Linked DNA regions of Homo sapiens: all the other regions are reported to be linked to region 1. The links are microRNA targets in miRTarBase. Many come from high-throughput screens and were not tested one by one. Region 1 holds a microRNA gene; each other region holds the end of a gene's coding sequence.

Evidence for each region. Region 1 holds the annotated microRNA hsa-miR-218-5p (UUGUGCUUGAUCUAACCAUGU, at 1,350-1,370, shown strand). A microRNA usually pairs through its seed, bases 2 to 8, with sites in the 3' UTR of a target mRNA and lowers its output. Matches are read on the target gene's strand: a 7mer-m8 pairs with bases 2 to 8, a 7mer-A1 pairs with bases 2 to 7 and ends in A, and an 8mer does both.
Region 2: miRTarBase lists FKBP10 as a target of hsa-miR-218-5p. The part of its 3' UTR that is shown has no 7-base or 8-base seed match.
Region 3: the mRNA of CUX1 is a reported target of hsa-miR-218-5p. The part of its 3' UTR that is shown has no 7-base or 8-base seed match.
Region 4: the mRNA of BAG6 is a reported target of hsa-miR-218-5p. The part of its 3' UTR that is shown has no 7-base or 8-base seed match.

Annotation. Positions count from the first base shown.
Region 1 is chr5:168,765,517-168,769,580 of GRCh38, reverse strand. It overlaps MIR218-2 (microRNA 218-2), which reads left to right and starts at 1,326; the gene lies at 1,326-1,435. The region is part of intron 14 of SLIT3 (slit guidance ligand 3); the gene reads left to right.
Region 2 is chr17:41,822,025-41,826,088 of GRCh38, reverse strand. It overlaps FKBP10 (FKBP prolyl isomerase 10), which reads right to left. Exons shown (of 10, transcript NM_021939.4): 10 at 2,876-3,866. The coding sequence ends at 3,681. It overlaps NT5C3B (5'-nucleotidase, cytosolic IIIB), which reads left to right. Exons shown (of 9, transcript NM_052935.5): 9 at 432-1,032. The coding sequence ends at 566. Among named protein-coding and RNA genes, the nearest start is that of FKBP10, 11 kb to the right of the region's middle. RefSeq lists an enhancer at 3,496-4,064.
Region 3 is chr7:102,248,350-102,252,413 of GRCh38, forward strand. It overlaps CUX1 (cut like homeobox 1), which reads left to right. Exons shown (of 24, transcript NM_181552.4): 24 at 63-4,064. The coding sequence ends at 693. Among named protein-coding and RNA genes, the nearest start is that of SH2B2, 36 kb to the right of the region's middle.
Region 4 is chr6:31,635,736-31,639,799 of GRCh38, forward strand. It overlaps BAG6 (BAG cochaperone 6), which reads right to left. Exons shown (of 26, transcript NM_001387994.1): 25 at 3,765-3,911; 26 at 3,293-3,491. The coding sequence ends at 3,396. PRRC2A (proline rich coiled-coil 2A) reads left to right here. Exons shown (of 31, transcript NM_004638.4): 24 at 1-14; 25 at 232-314; 26 at 474-684; 27 at 775-873; 28 at 998-1,210; 29 at 1,307-1,401; 30 at 1,499-1,589; 31 at 1,711-2,036. The coding sequence ends at 1,851. Among named protein-coding and RNA genes, the nearest start is that of MIR6832, 4.0 kb to the left of the region's middle.

The DNA.
Region 1 (4,064 bases):
TCTAGTGGCTGACTCTAGTGCGTGTGATGAGAGACCTTAGGAAGGAGGAGAGGCCAGACAGACCCAGAGCTGTGGGCTGGCTCTTCCTAACTGGTCCAACATGGCAGACAACCTATGCACCGTTGAGATGCTGAGACCATCTAGAGGATATGCCCAGTCCCAAAAACACATAGTGGAAGAATGTTGATACTGGTTCTCATGTCAGAGGTCAGGCAGGGAGGGTCTCAGTCACTTAGCCTTAGCTCCAGTTTCTTCAAGATGCACATCTCCAGCCTAATGCCAAGTGGGAGGAAGTCCCAAGTCAGCAGGTTCATGGAAACTGACCCTGATCTATCACAGAGAGGAATATAAAAACTGGGTACCCTCACCTGGGCCTTTGGCATCCTGACAGTGGTTATTGGTTCATCCTGTTCGCTCCCATAATTTCCAGCTAAGGAAGAGAACAAGAAATCAAGAAGGACCCCAGAATTCAGTGTCTTCCCCTCAGACTCATCACTTGGCTTCCCTTTCCTTCCTTCTCTTAGTCTCAAAGAGGCCCTTCATCAGGAGGCGCACTGGCCACCATCTCTGTGAAAGTCAGTGTTCTCAAACAACAACTATGATTGCAGGTTCCTCAGTCCAAACCCTACGGCCCCATTTGTTTTCCTGTCTTTCTCTCTGGCTAGAGAGATATATTTTCTTTTGACACCCCACTGCTCCTCTATTAAACCTCAAATGATCTGGGATGAGTGTCTATCAGCCAGAGCATTCCTGCTGACCTCAAAGGATATAAAGGAGACTCCTGAATTGTGGAATGTCAAAGGGGGCTTTTTCCTAAAGAACAGCATTGAAGGTTTGCTAGACCACTGGGAACTGTGGATTGTCTCTTGACTTAAGGGGCTAGAGGAATGACTGTGATGGAACCACTCAGCTGTTGGGGGGATTGGGCCTATGTTGCAAAGCATGCAGAAGATGCTTTTCTAAGTTTAATGTCTTGTCAGACCAACTGGTGTGACTGAATGGAGTTTAGAGGCTCAATTCAGGCATGTGATAGGATCACAGATGTCTGAGTGTTCTTTCTTTCCTTGGGAAGGAACCATGCTGTCCTGAAGCTCCCGAGTATGGGCATCCAGTGATTTCCCTCCCGTTCTTCTCCCTTCCTACTGTGTCTCCCTGGGGTGGGGCACAAGGGCAGCAGGGCTGCAATCTTCGGAAGTGTTCCAGTGGAACCCCACTCCTGATACTAATCACGCTCAGTGGGGGCCTGCTCCGGCTTCCGCTTCTCCACGCTGCTTCCTCTGAGCGCTCCTGTCCTCTCTCTGACGCTGCTTCCTGACCTTGACTCTGACCAGTCGCTGCGGGGCTTTCCTTTGTGCTTGATCTAACCATGTGGTGGAACGATGGAAACGGAACATGGTTCTGTCAAGCACCGCGGAAAGCACCGTGCTCTCCTGCAGCATGGCCCGCCACCGCCGCCACCACCGCTGGACACCTCTCCTCTGCTCTGGAGCACCGCAGCCCACCACCTGCCAGACCCACCTCTCCCAGTCTCAACTCACCAAAGGCAGGAGGGTAGGAGTCTCAAAGGATGCAGATACAGAGGGAAATGGGTCTGGAGAAGCACCCTGGGGAAAGAGATCTGTATCCACATCTCTTTCCCAAAATGGAGTCACCCTCCCCCAAATCTAGTCTGGATGTCAGACAAGGAGTAATAACTAGGTTCAAGCTCAGAAACTACTGTGTCTCTTCTTCCACTGGAAGGGAACAAGTATACCCAAGGCATACGCCCCATGGTTTCATGGGAGAGTCCCAACCCAAGGTCATTTTTCCAAGTGGCAGCTAACCCAAAGGGGAATTCCTACTGCTTGTGACCCCCGACCCCTCCCACCACCACCTTTATTGGTATTCACTTTATTTGAAATGAACGTCAGCATGAGAATGGGTGAAACTCATGTGAGTCTGAGACTTTGGGTTTAACCCAAGGTTCCTTCTGAACCTCATTCCCATACTTTATGAAAACACAGTCCCTGAACCCCATGAAACCTAAAGTCCAGTCTGTTTCCTTGACCTGCAAAGCACAGTTAACGTGGAGGTGCTGGGCTCCTCACCTGGTGCTAATTCTGTTTCAGGGGAGGGGAGTGTGTGTGGACGTGGAAACCTGCTATCTCTGATAATAAAGAGAGGGATCTTGGTACCTCTTATTTTGCTTGTTCCTTGATAAATCCTAGACCCAGTGTAACCAGAAGACTGTGTTGTTCATTCCTGTCCTGGAGTCTTTGTCCTATTCTGCAAGAGAGAGCTAAGGTGGGAACTTTAGCCTAGCTCAGAACTAGAAGCTGAGCCCTGGGCCCCCATCATGAGGTGTGACTCTTATTACCTCGTCTATCTGAGGTTACCCCTCAGAACCAGGAGCCCAACCATTGCTTAGTAGTTTTTTAACATACATTGAGTGCTTGCTATAGGCCAGGCAGTGAACTGTTTTCACATCATTACCTTGTTTAATGTTCACAAAATCTAAAGTCCCACTTTACAGATGAGGATATTGAGGCTCAGAGAGGTTAGCTAACTTACCCAGGGTCATCTGATTCCAGAATGGCTGCACTGTACTGCTGTAATACCCACCTTCCCAGCTGTGGACAACCCCATTGCCTTGAATTAGAACATTTAAAAACTGTGATTTGATAGGGACTTGAAATTTGCTTAAACTCTCCCTTTCAGACTTTCATCTGTTAGTAGAAAGAACTTGAGTAAGAGAGAAAGCATTATTCAAATGGCTGTTCCTCTCCAGCATGGACATACAAAGATCCCATTTAACACAGAGCAAATCCTCGAGCCTGGAGAAGTTCCCTTTCCCACCTTACAGAGAGGGGCATTCTGAGGCCCTCGGCACTGCCCCTAACATGGCAGGGACCAGGCCTCTGGGAGTGGGTCCATAATGGTGCCCTTCCATCAGTGCTTTACTGGCCCCGCAGCCACAGGCTGTGATGAGGCAGTGCCAGCCTCAGACCATGGGTATTTCCCTCTGTTTTCAGGCAGATGGCTGCACTCATAATAGACTCCAAAGGGGATAGCTTACTAGGACGGCTCCCTGCCCAACTGGTGACCAAACTCCTAGTAAAACAGTTGGCATCTTCCAGCCACTGGCAGCTGGTCCCCCAGCCTTGCCCATGAGTGGATGTCTGTGTGCCTGGCAGTGTTCTCCTTAGTCATTCATCACTTATGACCCTTTGCTTATTCACATCACTGTCTTTTCAAGCTGATGAGGCCTGACAGGACTTACGCTCCCCCCAATTCCTCTTTCTGCTTCTTTCCTCCTTTCTTTTATTCCACTCATCTTAGGGATATTGGGAATAGGGGAGGAGAGCTCTGGAAACATGAGTTAGCAAGTCCATGATGATCAGATAACAATGAATTTATGACTCCCAGTCAGCAAACTGGCTGCCCAAAGGATGATACAAAATGCATACCGTTGATGGCAGCAGCCATCCTGGACCTGGTGCTGGCCTCTGATCCCAACCCAGCCAAGTCCATTCAAACATGGGAGCTTGGCTCCCTACCTGTCCCACACCCCTGGTCATCCAAATGTGACAAGTGTTCCTCCTGGGAAGTGGCTGTAGGACAGGGATGTATAATAAAATTGTGTTGCTGTAATTTCCACCTCCTACCCCCACCCCCCCGTCTATTAAAGCTTGTCTGTGATCACGTACCAAGTGTCGTTGTTCTGAGCTGCCCGCGAAAGGGGAGGAGGGCTCCAGGGGCAGGAGCAGGCAAGATGCCAGATGACATCAGCTCTTCCAAGGCTGGTTTCAGCCGAGGTTGAGTTTTATGGCCCTTCTTCAAATCCTCTGGGATCTCTTCTGTCTGAACTCACCCCAAAGAGAAGAAGCAACAGCCTATTGCAGTCGGTCCTCTATTACTAAGTATTTCTGGCAGTGACAAATATGCACTGAGATTGAAATTGACTTTTAAAGCTCTGGAAAAGTTAAAAATACTTTGGGGTAGTTATGAGCATTAGGCATAACAAATGGCTCTGAGAAACCCTGAGTAGTTTCGGTAATGAAATATGAAGTGATGGAGATGGCATT
Region 2 (4,064 bases), not on the chromosome of region 1:
AATTTCCTGGGCTCAAGTGATCCTTTCTGCCTCAGTCTCCCGAGTAGCTGGGACTACAGGCACCCACCCCCATGCCCGGCCAATTTTTGTAGAGATGGGCTTTTGCCATGTTGCCTGGGCTGGTCTCAAACTCTTGGGCTCAGATGATCCTTCTGCCTCAGCCTCCCAAAGTGGCAACATCTGGTTTTTTGTTTTTATTCCTTGTTACTGTTCTTTTGTATTGACCCAAGGGTTAATTGTGGTAGCCCATGCCCATCCCTCGTCTGTCTCCAAAGGGTAGGCCCGGTAACCTTGAACTCCTTTGGCTCTCAAAAGGGAGCTGGGAGTTGCTGCTTGAATGCTCTCCTCCCCAGCCCCAGGGGCTTTGAGAGTGAGCTACGGAGGGCAGGGCATTTGGGGACCCTCTGGCTTCTGCCTCTCATTCCGGGCAGGTGGAGGAGCGGCGGGAGCGCTACATGGACTCCTATGACATCGTGCTGGAGAAGGACGAGACTCTGGATGTGGTCAACGGGCTACTGCAGCACATCCTGTGCCAGGGGGTCCAGCTGGAGATGCAAGGCCCCTGAAGGCGCAGGCTCCAGCCCGGCCTGCAGGCCGTGGTGAGGAGGGGCGCCTCCCCAGAGTCTGCTCCCCCGTGAACACAGAGCAGAGGCCAGGGTGGCCAGCAGTGGCTGGGTCCTTCCGCGCCCCTCCGTCCTCCTTTCCCTGAGCACCTTCATCACCAGAGGCTTGAAGGAACCCCGCCATGTGGCAGGGCACAGGCACTGTTCCTGGTGAACCTTGGACCACAGCATGTCAGTGCTCTAGGGATTGTCTACTCCAGGGATTTTCTTCAAAATTTTTAAACATGGGAAGTTCAAACAAATATAATGTGTGAAACAGATCAAAATTTTTAAAATGAAAAAAAAGCTGCTCTGATTCAGGGGATGTGGGTGGGGGTAGAACCTGGACCTCTTGGCCCTGGGGGCACATGGGATGCTTCTAGGAACACAGTTTGAGAACCACCACAAATTGGCCTGAGACCCCATCCGAGCACAGCCTGATTGTGTCTGTCTGGTTCAGCGTGGGGCTGAAAGGGTATGTTCTAGCCTATAGTGGTTTGACTTTATTCTGATTCAGCCATCAAACTTGAAATTCATTTGGGATCGGTGGGGTTGAGGCAACCCTGTCTGAGAGCCCCCTCTTTAGGGATCCCTGAGGGGATGCATTCGTGTGTGGCTGTCCCCCTATGCCCTAGGCTCTCCTTTCCCCTCCTCTTATGGGTCGGGGCCACTAAAGTGGATGACCTGAAAAGGGGAATTTAGAGCAGGGACCTGAGGGAGACTGTGCCAAGGTGAAACAAGTGATGTGTGCACTGTGGTCTTGCGTTATTGGGCCGACCCTGAAGAGCCAGTTCAGCATTTTCTTAGCCTTAGAGGAAATCACCAGCACCCTTCCTGCAGTGTTCGGCTAGCCGTTGGAAAGTTCTGTTATTCTGCAGATGTGAAGCGGGAGGTAATACAGATGTTACTGAAGGCCTGCGGTGTCCCAGGTGCCACTCTGGGCACTTGGGTGCCTGCCAGTTGACCCTCACAATGACCCCACAAGTAGGTGCAGCTCCTCCTGCTTCCAGATGGCTCAGGCAGGATGGGTAACTTGCCCAAACTCCATAGCTAGGAGCTGGAGCCAGGATTTGAATGTTTCTGACCAAAGCCCATGCGTTTTGCTGCATTTCTCTGCTTCAGGCCTGTTCCATTCGTTTTTGGGAGGAGGGAGTGGCCACCATCTGAGGCTGGGTTAGTAACCACTTCCAGACTTTAATCAAGGAGCTTTCTTGGCCGGCGCAGTGGCTCACGCCTGTAATCCCAGCACTCTGGGAGGCCAGGGTGGCAGATCACTTGAGGTCAAGAGTTTGAGACTAGTGTGGCCAACATGGTAAGACCCTGTCTCTACTAAAAATACAAAAATTAGCCGGGCTTGGTGGCCCGTGCCTGTAATCCCAGCTACTCAGGAGGCTGAAGCAGGAGAATCACTTGAACCTGGCAGGCGGAGGTTGCAGTGAGCTGAGATCATACCACTGCGCTGTGGTGACAGAGCGAGACCCTGTCTCAAAAAAAAAAAAAAAAAGACTTCAATCAGGGAGCTTTCTGGATGCTTCGGGGCCAGAGAATGTCGGTCATTGCCCGTGGGGAGCAGTCACGTCTCTTAGGGGACCCTGGGCAAGAAGTGCTGATGGGGGCAGTTTGCTGTATGAGTCCAGTCCTGTCATTTTCTTTCCTAAGTCACCACCCCGTCCTCACAATGCTCGGGTCATACCAGGCAAGCGAGGACAGATGGCCTGGTTGGTGGCTGAAGTCCTCCTGCAAGACACTGTGGAGATCTGAACTCCATTACCTTTCCCCTAGCAAGAGGGAGAAGGGTGGGCAGGTGGTAACAGGTGGTGGCCAGGAGCAGGGAGAGATGGGAATATCATAGTATTGGAAATGATCTATGGGAAAGGATAATCTGACTTGTGTGGTTTAATCCTTGAACTTTGTAGGTTGTGTTTGAGGTCAGGGACCTTGTCTTTCCCATTCAATGGGGACAATTGGAGGATGAGGATCATCTCTCCACACCCTGCTGGAGGCCTCCCCTCTTTACACATTCACCCCCTCCACAGAGCAGGGCTCCCTTCCCACAGCGAAGACCCCAGGTTAGGCCCAGGGCAGGCAGGAAACCTCCAGATGGGGAGCCCCTGACCTGGGGACATGCTGTCTGGAGCTAATGAGGCCATGGAAACAGCCTGGTTTAACTTTTTCCCCAATCTCTGGGTCTAAAGGCCTCCCACAATCCCCACTTCATCCCCTAGCCATTCCCCCCTGCCCCTCAACCTGGTCCAAAAGACACCCTAAGGCCATTGGTTTAATCTTTTATTTGGAACAAAGGAAAAAAGGACTGACACCAGTTTAGCCTTTGAGTGTGCAGAGCTCTGCCCTCCCTCCCACCCCTCAGCCCCAAATCCAAGATTTCATAGCCCTAACACCCACCCAAGCAGCTTCCCTCACACATGCCCTTTGTTTTCTTCCTCTCTTCTATGGTTCCTTAGGGAAAGGAGCCTTCTTTAGGGATGAAAAGCTAACTACAGCCCAGTCTGGCCTCCAGCAGCCCAGGGTCAGCTCAGCCTCCACTGGAGGCGAGGGAGGAGGGCAAAGGGCATGGGAGAGGTAGGGCTGCCCTCCAGGAGCCTTCCCCTTCCCTAGGAGCCAGTCAGGATTGGGGAGGAAGGCAGAGGGGTCCTAGGGAGCTGTCACATAGAGGAAAAGGGGCTGGGAGTGGGGATGACAAGAAGTACAAAGAAAGAGAAAGTTTGGGGAGATGGATAACAAGCTCAGCTGTGTCAGTGATGTGGAGGGGAGGTATGGTGGGGGACCAGCCATGGCCCTATCCAACCCCAGGCTCCACAGGCCCCAAATTGGCTTTGCAAATCCAAACATTTTAAGGAAGTGGTTTAGGGATGGAAGAGAAACACGGTAGAGGTCTGTGCTGTGGATTTTCATCTAGGGTGGTGGGAACACCAGAGATGTCTCCTCTGCCATTGTTTTAGTTGGCTCCTGGACCTCATCCCAGCAGAGGGAGGGTGACTGTCAGCAGGTCAGTCCCACCGCCACTGTCCCCCTCGCAGTGGGCCTCTGTGTCTCAGGCCTGGCCAGGCTCCCTGCCCCTCAGAGCTCCTCGTGGACCCGCTCCTCGTCCTCATCTGACTTCAGCTTGAGCTCGTCGACTGTGATCTTGCCGTCCTGGTTGCGGTCCTGGTTCTGGAACATGTCTCCTATGGTTTTCTCAGGGTCCTGCCCAGGCATGAGGCGTCCTTTGCCCTCACTCACTTGAGCCTTGATGAAGGTGGAGAACTGGGGCAGGGGAGAGCCGGGGGAGCGGGCAGTGAGGGTCATGGCCTTGGGAGGGGCAGGGGCCCCGGGTGGAGGCCAGTGAGTGCTTTCTTTTTCTTCTTTTTTCCCAGGCTCCCCCGCACCCTGTAACTCAGGAAGGGCTGGGAAAGGCACTGGTGCTGGGGTCCTGGTGGGGGCTGGGGTGGAGGCGTGGCATGG
Region 3 (4,064 bases), not on the chromosome of region 1:
GCACCAGAGGCCCTTTCCCCAGCAGCACCCCCCTCACGTCCCCGCCGCTTGTTGTCTTGTAGGTCTCGGATCCGCAGAGAACTGTTCATTGAGGAAATTCAGGCCGGGAGTCAGGGCCAGGCGGGCGCCAGCGACTCACCCTCGGCCCGCAGCGGCCGGGCGGCGCCCAGCTCGGAGGGCGACAGCTGCGACGGCGTGGAGGCCACTGAGGGCCCAGGCAGCGCCGACACCGAGGAGCCCAAGTCTCAGGGAGAGGCCGAGCGGGAGGAGGTGCCGCGGCCGGCGGAGCAGACGGAGCCGCCGCCCTCGGGGACCCCGGGCCCGGACGACGCCCGCGACGACGACCACGAGGGAGGCCCCGTGGAAGGCCCGGGGCCCCTGCCCAGCCCCGCCTCCGCGACCGCCACCGCCGCGCCCGCGGCCCCCGAGGACGCCGCTACCTCAGCCGCCGCCGCGCCGGGGGAGGGCCCCGCGGCCCCGAGCTCCGCGCCGCCGCCCAGCAACAGCAGCAGCAGCAGCGCCCCCCGCAGGCCCAGCTCGCTGCAGAGCCTTTTCGGCCTCCCCGAGGCCGCGGGCGCCCGGGACTCGCGCGACAACCCCCTGCGCAAGAAGAAGGCCGCGAACTTGAACAGCATCATCCACCGCCTGGAGAAGGCCGCCAGCCGGGAGGAACCTATCGAATGGGAGTTCTGAGGGGCCGCGGCCCTGGGGCGGGCAGCCAGGCTGGGCCGCAAGGGCCTGGACGGGGTCGGACGGGGCAGGCGCTGCGGACACCGTGGCCTGGGCTTGGCCCGCGGCCTGCACCGACCCCGGGCCGGACCTGAGCCCGCAGCCCAGACCCCCTCCACGGTCCGCGGCCTGCACCGACCCGAGGCCCAGATCCAAGGCCGCGGCCCAGACCCACTCTGCGGCCCGGGCCGACCCTGCGGCCTCCACCAACCCCGCGGCCCAGACCCAGCCCGCGGCCTGGACCCCTGGACCGCTTTGCGCACTTACCGCCCTGCGGGCCACAGGGCAAAATCGCCATAGGCCAAGGTGCATATAGAAAACAAAGGAGCATTAAGCCCAATCTATGTCGTGTTTTCAAGGAAGAAAACGGAAATGTGTGGTCGAGCTTTTTTGTACCCTGAAGTGTTTTTTTTATTGCCCTAAGTGATTTCCACAGGTTCTGGAATAACTCTTACAGCTTTGCCTTGTGTCCTCCTGTTCCGTGTGGGCTTTAAAAGAAAAAAAATCAAACCCACATATTAAAAGGGGGCTTTTTATCTGCCATCTAATGGCTTCAGAGCGATAATACACTATTATCTTCTTAAACCAGGAAAAAATAAAAGGGGGGGTGGGATTTTTCAGAAAAATTAAAAAAGAAAGTTTTTGTAGCTGTTCAGTTGCCACTAAGAGATTGCACAGTCAAAACGACTCTAAACACACTAGTTTGGATTCCTAAATATTTTCAAGAAAAGAATCTTCTCGTTTGAAACTTTGAATTAAAATAAAACACATTTACTCCACATATTTTTTAACAAAAAGAAAACGTCACATCAGGAAACTCTGATTTTGTGGTAGCTGACATAGTGTTTTCTTGTACGTGAATAGAATCCTGACATGTAGTGCACATTGATGTATAGCTTTAACTGACCCTGGGTTTTGCAGACCAGGGTTTGTTTAATACACTCCATTCTAGGCCAAATCAGGACAAAAAAAAGAAAAAAAAAGAAAAAAAAAAAAGAAAAGATCCGAATCTAGGTATTTTATAATCTGCTTTTTAACCTCTAACCGCAGAGCACGCTGATCAGACCTCATATCTTGGAGGTTTAGGAGACAAGTTAGAACTGTAGCATGTACCTGTTAATTTTGTTTAATTTATGGTGTCTCAATCTGTCTGTGCGTCTGCACGTGTGCAAGCATTGAAAGAAAGGAGAGAGTAGTCCGGGCGAGCACAGCAGGCAGTTCCAGGGCCAGACGGGCCCATCCCCAAGTAGATAGCAGTCTACGGATCTCTCTCTGGCACAGAAGGCACCTCACCTCACACCACTCTCCTGGATACCTGATGAACTGAGCCCTCCCAGGGGAAGACACTCCCCAGGCCTGGGCAGGGCTTACACGCGCACTCTCTCTCTTCTTTCCCTTTTTCTTCCCACCGCAAGCACTGATGACCCTGTTGAACTCGTGGGAAACTTCCTTTCTCTGCAGGAGAGAGAACGTGGCATTCTGGGCTCCCCACTCCCATCCCTGTAGAAATGGCCCAAACTCACACCAAAACGTGGATGCTCTTCAACTTCCAAACCTACCATTTGCCCTTCTTTCATTTCGCCTCTTAGTTCTTTTTATGCACAGTTTTAGGGCAGTCTAAGTACAAACTGAAAGTCTAACTTGTCTCTGATTCCTCCCTTGTCTATGTGTATATGCGTGAGAATAGAGGCGGGTGAGAGTGTGCGTGCGTGTGCGTGTGTGCAATTTTATACGTCTGTGTATTTTCTTAAGTACCTGTGCACACGTAGAGTGCATTACTGCCACCTTTTTCAATAAGCTGTTTTATCAGTTACGGCTTCTACAAGTTTGCTAATTTAGACTTCTTTATTGCCATATCTTTAAACTAACAATAGATGATTTCGGTATATATATATATTTTTTTTTGCTTATTTATAGGTGCTGTATTTTATTATCTGATTGTTAGGAAGGGATGAAAGGGGCAAATATTCTTTAGAGGGATAGACTGCCGGCAGTATTGGGTATAATTTACAAGATGTAGTTGTCATACTGTATATTACTGATTGAAAACTTTTTGACCGTATTGTGTATCATTGAAACCTTTGTCTTAGGTCAACATCTTTGGATGACATTTTAATGGTGCATTCATTATTTCTTAAGTTTAATTAATATTACTTTTTTTTTTATTTGGGGGGTGGGAGGGAGTTATAATTTTAAAGGTATGCTCTGGCTGTTCCACCTCCGTGTGCTTGTTAATTAACTTGTAGGACTTTGACTGTAAGATGTGAAACCACGTTTCTTGCATGATGTTTTAGAGATTATTTCATTTACAGTCTTTTAACCTGCAGCTGCAGCACTTAGTTCACGTTTTCACAAATTTCAAGAGTCACTACACTAAAGACAATGCCTTTTCATGAATAAGAAGTTTTCAGAAGGCTCTAGGGGGCTGGGAGGCAGGCTGTTCGTTTGTCTTTTGTTGGGGGTATCATTTCTGAACTTGAAATCCAGTTCAGGGAGAAGAGAATTCAAAATTAGAGGAGCTTAAGGGGACACGGGTCAACATCTAGCTCGATTCAGGTGCATTGAGAAGAGTGAGTTCACATCGGTGACCCTTAGGACAGTGAGTGGCAGAGCCCTGACGACTGTGGTGTCCTCTCCACAAAACCCTCAAGGGACTTTTGTCATCATGTGTGATGAATCTTTAAATATCGTCTAATTTTCATAAGAATGAAAAGAAGTTAACAGGAAATAGTAGGCTAGGGTTTAGTTTTAAAGGCATGACTGTTATTTACAAAGGTGTTAAATCTGAGGAAATTGACAAATACAGATTTGTCCATTCTAGTGGCCAAACAGTAACAGTCTAAAATGCAGTCATTTTGACCCTCCCAAGCAATTTAGTCATATGTGTTGTTTTCTCTTTTCTGTTTTTACTTCTTAGATTTTTAACTAGGTTACTGTTGGTTCCCATTCTGTCTTTTTTGCCAGACTTACATCTGGTGCCAGATACAATCAGTTGGTTAAATTTTGCTTGCAGTTCTGTGTATTTTTTTTCCTCTATTATTTATTTTTTTAAAAAAAATAGAGATCCTAACCTTAGATCTTTGATGTGAAGCTAGCACTGTCTGTAATACTTCTAAGAGCTGCCACTAAAATAATACAGCAATCCGTGGCCAGGGGAGCACCCCCTCCTGGTTGGGCCCCTCAGTTGGAGTCTAAGGGTTAATCTCTCATCTTGCTAAGCAGTATTCAAGTGCCTTGAACAGTGTCCCCTCGGCATGGCTCCCCTTCAGCAGGCTGGCATTCCAAGCAGTGGCCCCCGCAGGCAGCCGACCCCCTTCCTCTTCACGCTCTATGAG
Region 4 (4,064 bases), not on the chromosome of region 1:
CTTCCAGTTCTCAGGTAGGCCCCGCTTCCCATTGCATGACCCCTTCAGTGAATAATAATTTTTTTCTGCCTGGTATGTATTTATAATCAAGCCTTTCTACGTTGCAGAGTTGTGAGATACCACTTTGTCACATCATTTTTCTCCCTACTTTTTGCTTCTATGGGTGGGATGGTGATCTTTTTTCTTGACCACAGATACTAAAGCTGTTTCAACCGTGCTCCTCTCCTGCAGATCTCTGGGGGAGCCATGGACTCTCAATTACATCCAAACAGTGGAGGCTTCCGCCCTGGGACACCCTCACTGCACCCTTACAGGTAAGACTCGATGCCTGTGGATCACAGAAGTACTTGGAGATGTGTTTCGGGGAGAGGGAAGGGGAAGACACAGTTCTAGGGTACTAGAAGCTAGTGGACTTAAGGCATTGCTAGGACTCTGGCTTCCTAACAGCTTTTCTCCCCACAATTTATTTTCAGATCACAGCCCCTATACCTACCCCCCGGCCCAGCCCCTCCCTCAGCACTGCTCTCTGGGTTAGCTCTCAAGGGCCAGTTTCTGGATTTCTCCACAATGCAAGCTACAGAGCTGGGGAAGTTGCCGGCTGGAGGAGTTCTCTACCCTCCACCTTCCTTCCTCTACTCTCCGGCTTTCTGCCCCAGTCCTTTGCCTGACACATCGTTGCTTCAGGTAAGAGGGGGGCAGGTATTAGATATTGGGGGATAGGGTAGGGAGAATGATTTTGTGGGGGTTGATATATTTCTCCCTGTTTCCCGACAGGTACGCCAGGATCTGCCATCCCCTTCGGATTTTTATTCTACTCCTCTGCAGCCTGGTGGCCAAAGTGGCTTTCTCCCTTCAGGGGCTCCTGCCCAGCAGGTATATTGTATCTTCACACTTCCCCTTCATTTGATTTCTCTGTCCAGTTGCTGGCTTTGATTTTCCCTGGTTTTCTGACATTCCTCCCTGCCCCCAACATGCACACCCAAATTTCTTGTTACAGATGCTTCTACCCATGGTAGACTCACAGCTGCCTGTGGTGAACTTTGGCTCCCTGCCGCCAGCACCACCTCCTGCCCCACCTCCCCTTTCTCTGTTACCTGTGGGCCCTGCTCTGCAGCCCCCCAGCCTGGCTGTGCGGCCCCCACCTGCTCCTGCTACTCGGGTGCTGCCTTCACCTGCCAGGCCCTTCCCCGCTAGCTTGGGGCGAGCAGAGGTAAGGTACAGGAACTGAGGGGCTAGGGAGCGCCAAGACTTGGGAGTAGGGATTCTGTATTTCAAGGTAGGCAGCTCATGATTTTTTTCCCCTCAGCTGCATCCAGTGGAACTAAAGCCGTTCCAGGATTATCAAAAACTGAGCAGCAACCTTGGGGGACCTGGATCATCACGGACTCCCCCAACTGGAAGGTGAAACGGAATAGGGATGTGGACTTTCCAAGTGCTTCCTTACTTTGGAACCAGGGTCTGGATCCTAGGCTTGCCTTAGACGCCCTTCTTCCCTTAGGTCCTTCTCTGGCCTCAATTCCCGTCTCAAGGCCACGCCTTCCACCTACAGTGGAGTCTTCCGCACCCAGCGCGTCGACCTTTACCAGCAGGTGAAGGAGAAACCCTTGTGGCCCCAACTCTAAATTCGAGTTGCCACCTGATTTCCTGTCCTTCCGTCTCATCGCTGACCTCTCACTGTGACTCACTGTTTAACACATGCCTGTCCCCTAGGCCTCCCCACCAGATGCCCTGCGCTGGATACCTAAGCCTTGGGAGCGGACAGGGCCGCCACCTCGAGAAGGGCCCTCCCGACGGGCAGAGGAGCCTGGGTCCCGAGGGGACAAGGAGCCTGGGTTGCCCCCACCCCGCTGAGGGAGTTCCTCTTGCCCCCTACCCCCGGGGCTTGTATATAGATTATAAATATATAAGGGGGAAAGGGGTGGGCGGGGAGGGGTTCTGGGGCTGGGGCCTCACTTCCCCTCCTCCCCCTTCCCCTGGTCCCCTGTCCCTGGGGCTGTTTGTTAAAAAAGAGTAATAAAAGGATTTAAAAAAAAAAACTTCTACAATGATTTGGGGGATGAGTTGTTTGCATTGTCTTAAAGCATGGTGCTGAGTGATCTGTAGTTTCAGTCAGGGAAATATTCATTACTTATTCCAGTGAGCTGTTGAAACTAAAAACATGACCATCGTATTGGATCTTTAAATTTTTGTGAGTCTGGAATTTGGGCTGAGCTCAGCTGGATAAATCTGCTTTTTTGTGCCAGTGAGCGAGGTCAACTGGTTATCAGTCTGCAGCTGACACCTGGGCTGGTCCCAATATGGCTTCCTTTGCATATCTAGGGCCTTGGTGGGACATCTGTAACATTACTGGGTTATCAACCAGTGTCTTCACATGGACTCTCCAGCAGGCCTGTTAAATGTCCGTGAGCTCATGTTCCAAGAGGTCTAGCTGGAATTTTCTAAGCTTATGCCATGCTTAGTTGATAAGAGCACTAAACTAGCCAAGGTAGGGGATGGGGGGGTTTAGAAGGGACTTCAACTGCATCTCAAAGGGACTAGCAAAGAATTTGCAGCCATGGGACTTCAGTTCTTTATGATGAACTAAGGGGAAATCTCTGTTAAGGCCTCAATGTTGGAGCACACTTAAGGGGCTCTTTGAATTGGATAGACCAATTCCAGCATTGTCAAACTAAGTGGGATTTCACATGGTAACGCTGCATGCTAGTTATGCTAAAGACTATACTTAGGTCTGCAGCTGCTCAGAAACTTTTTTTGATGGGTAATTTGAGAGCTCTATGCTAGTGTGCACCTGGAATATGCTCCCAACTCAAAATACAGGTTTTTTATTTATATATAAAGTGCTTTCGCACAAAAAATACAAACATCAGGCTGGGCGCGGTGGCCCACGCCTGTAATTCCAGCACTTTGGGAGGCCAAGGCGGGTGGATCACAAGGTCAGGAGTTCGAGACCAGCCTGGCCAATATGGTGAAACCCTGTCTCTACTAAAAATACAAAAATTAGCCGGGCGTCGTGGCGGACGCCTGTAGTCCCAGCTACTCAGGAGGCTGAGGCATGAGTGAGAATCACTTGAACCCGGGAGGTGGAGGTTGTAGTGAGCCGAGCTCGAGATCGGGCCACTGCACTCCAGCCTGGGAGACAGCAATACTCTGTCTCAAAAAAAAAAAAAAACAAACATCAAAACTGGCTTGTACAATTTAGCGTGCTGAGTAGAACACAACAGTGTTCCAAGGAAGTATTAATTTAAAAAAGTTCACACAAGATTAAGGGACACACTACCTAATGGAGACAATGTAGAGAGAAAGCAGCCAGAAAAATCCGACTTTTATTTCTTAAATACTGTGAAGGAAGAGGGGGGAAACGGTCCCCTGATGAGGAAGGGCCATAGAGCAAAGAGCTAAGGATCATCAGCAAAGGCCCGCTGGGCATTGGGGAAGCGCTGGGGACTGTAGTTGGGGTCTTCCTGCAGTCGTTTTTGTATATCAGACCGGAGCTAAAGAGAAAAAGTAAGCAGGTTGGAGAAACGCTGGCCAAGTCCCCATGATCCCAGCAAGCACACAAGGCCATCCCTCAGAAGCTAACATTTCCCCCCCCAAGCACACTGTCAAATAGCCCGGGGTGGCACTGTCAAGCCTTCCCAGATGCCAAAGGGGAAAACAAATGGTAGCACCAGGCTGACCAGTTCATCGCTGAAGGGATCCAGGGAAGAGGGACCCTAGCCCAACCCCTCCCACTAGACCATCCCTATTCTGCTTCAAGGTGGCACCTGCTGCCTGTAGCTCTCCTGAACCTCTGGTGCCTCCAGGTCCCGGCTCAGGCTCTCGGGGCTCGTCAGGGGCCGAGCTCCGGCTGCCTTAGCTGCCCGGCTCACAGCCTCTGAGAGAAGCAGCTGGGGGCCCTCACCCTGCATCGTCTGGGGGACAGGGGGTTGGGAGGGAAAAGAGGATCAACGTCAGATCCAGTGCCACCATCCGGCTCACCCTTTCCATGAGTCAACCACTCCACTGAGTCTCCATGCTAGTGGAGAGAGGGGAAATTAAGAGTCCAGGATGTGGTTTTTACAGCA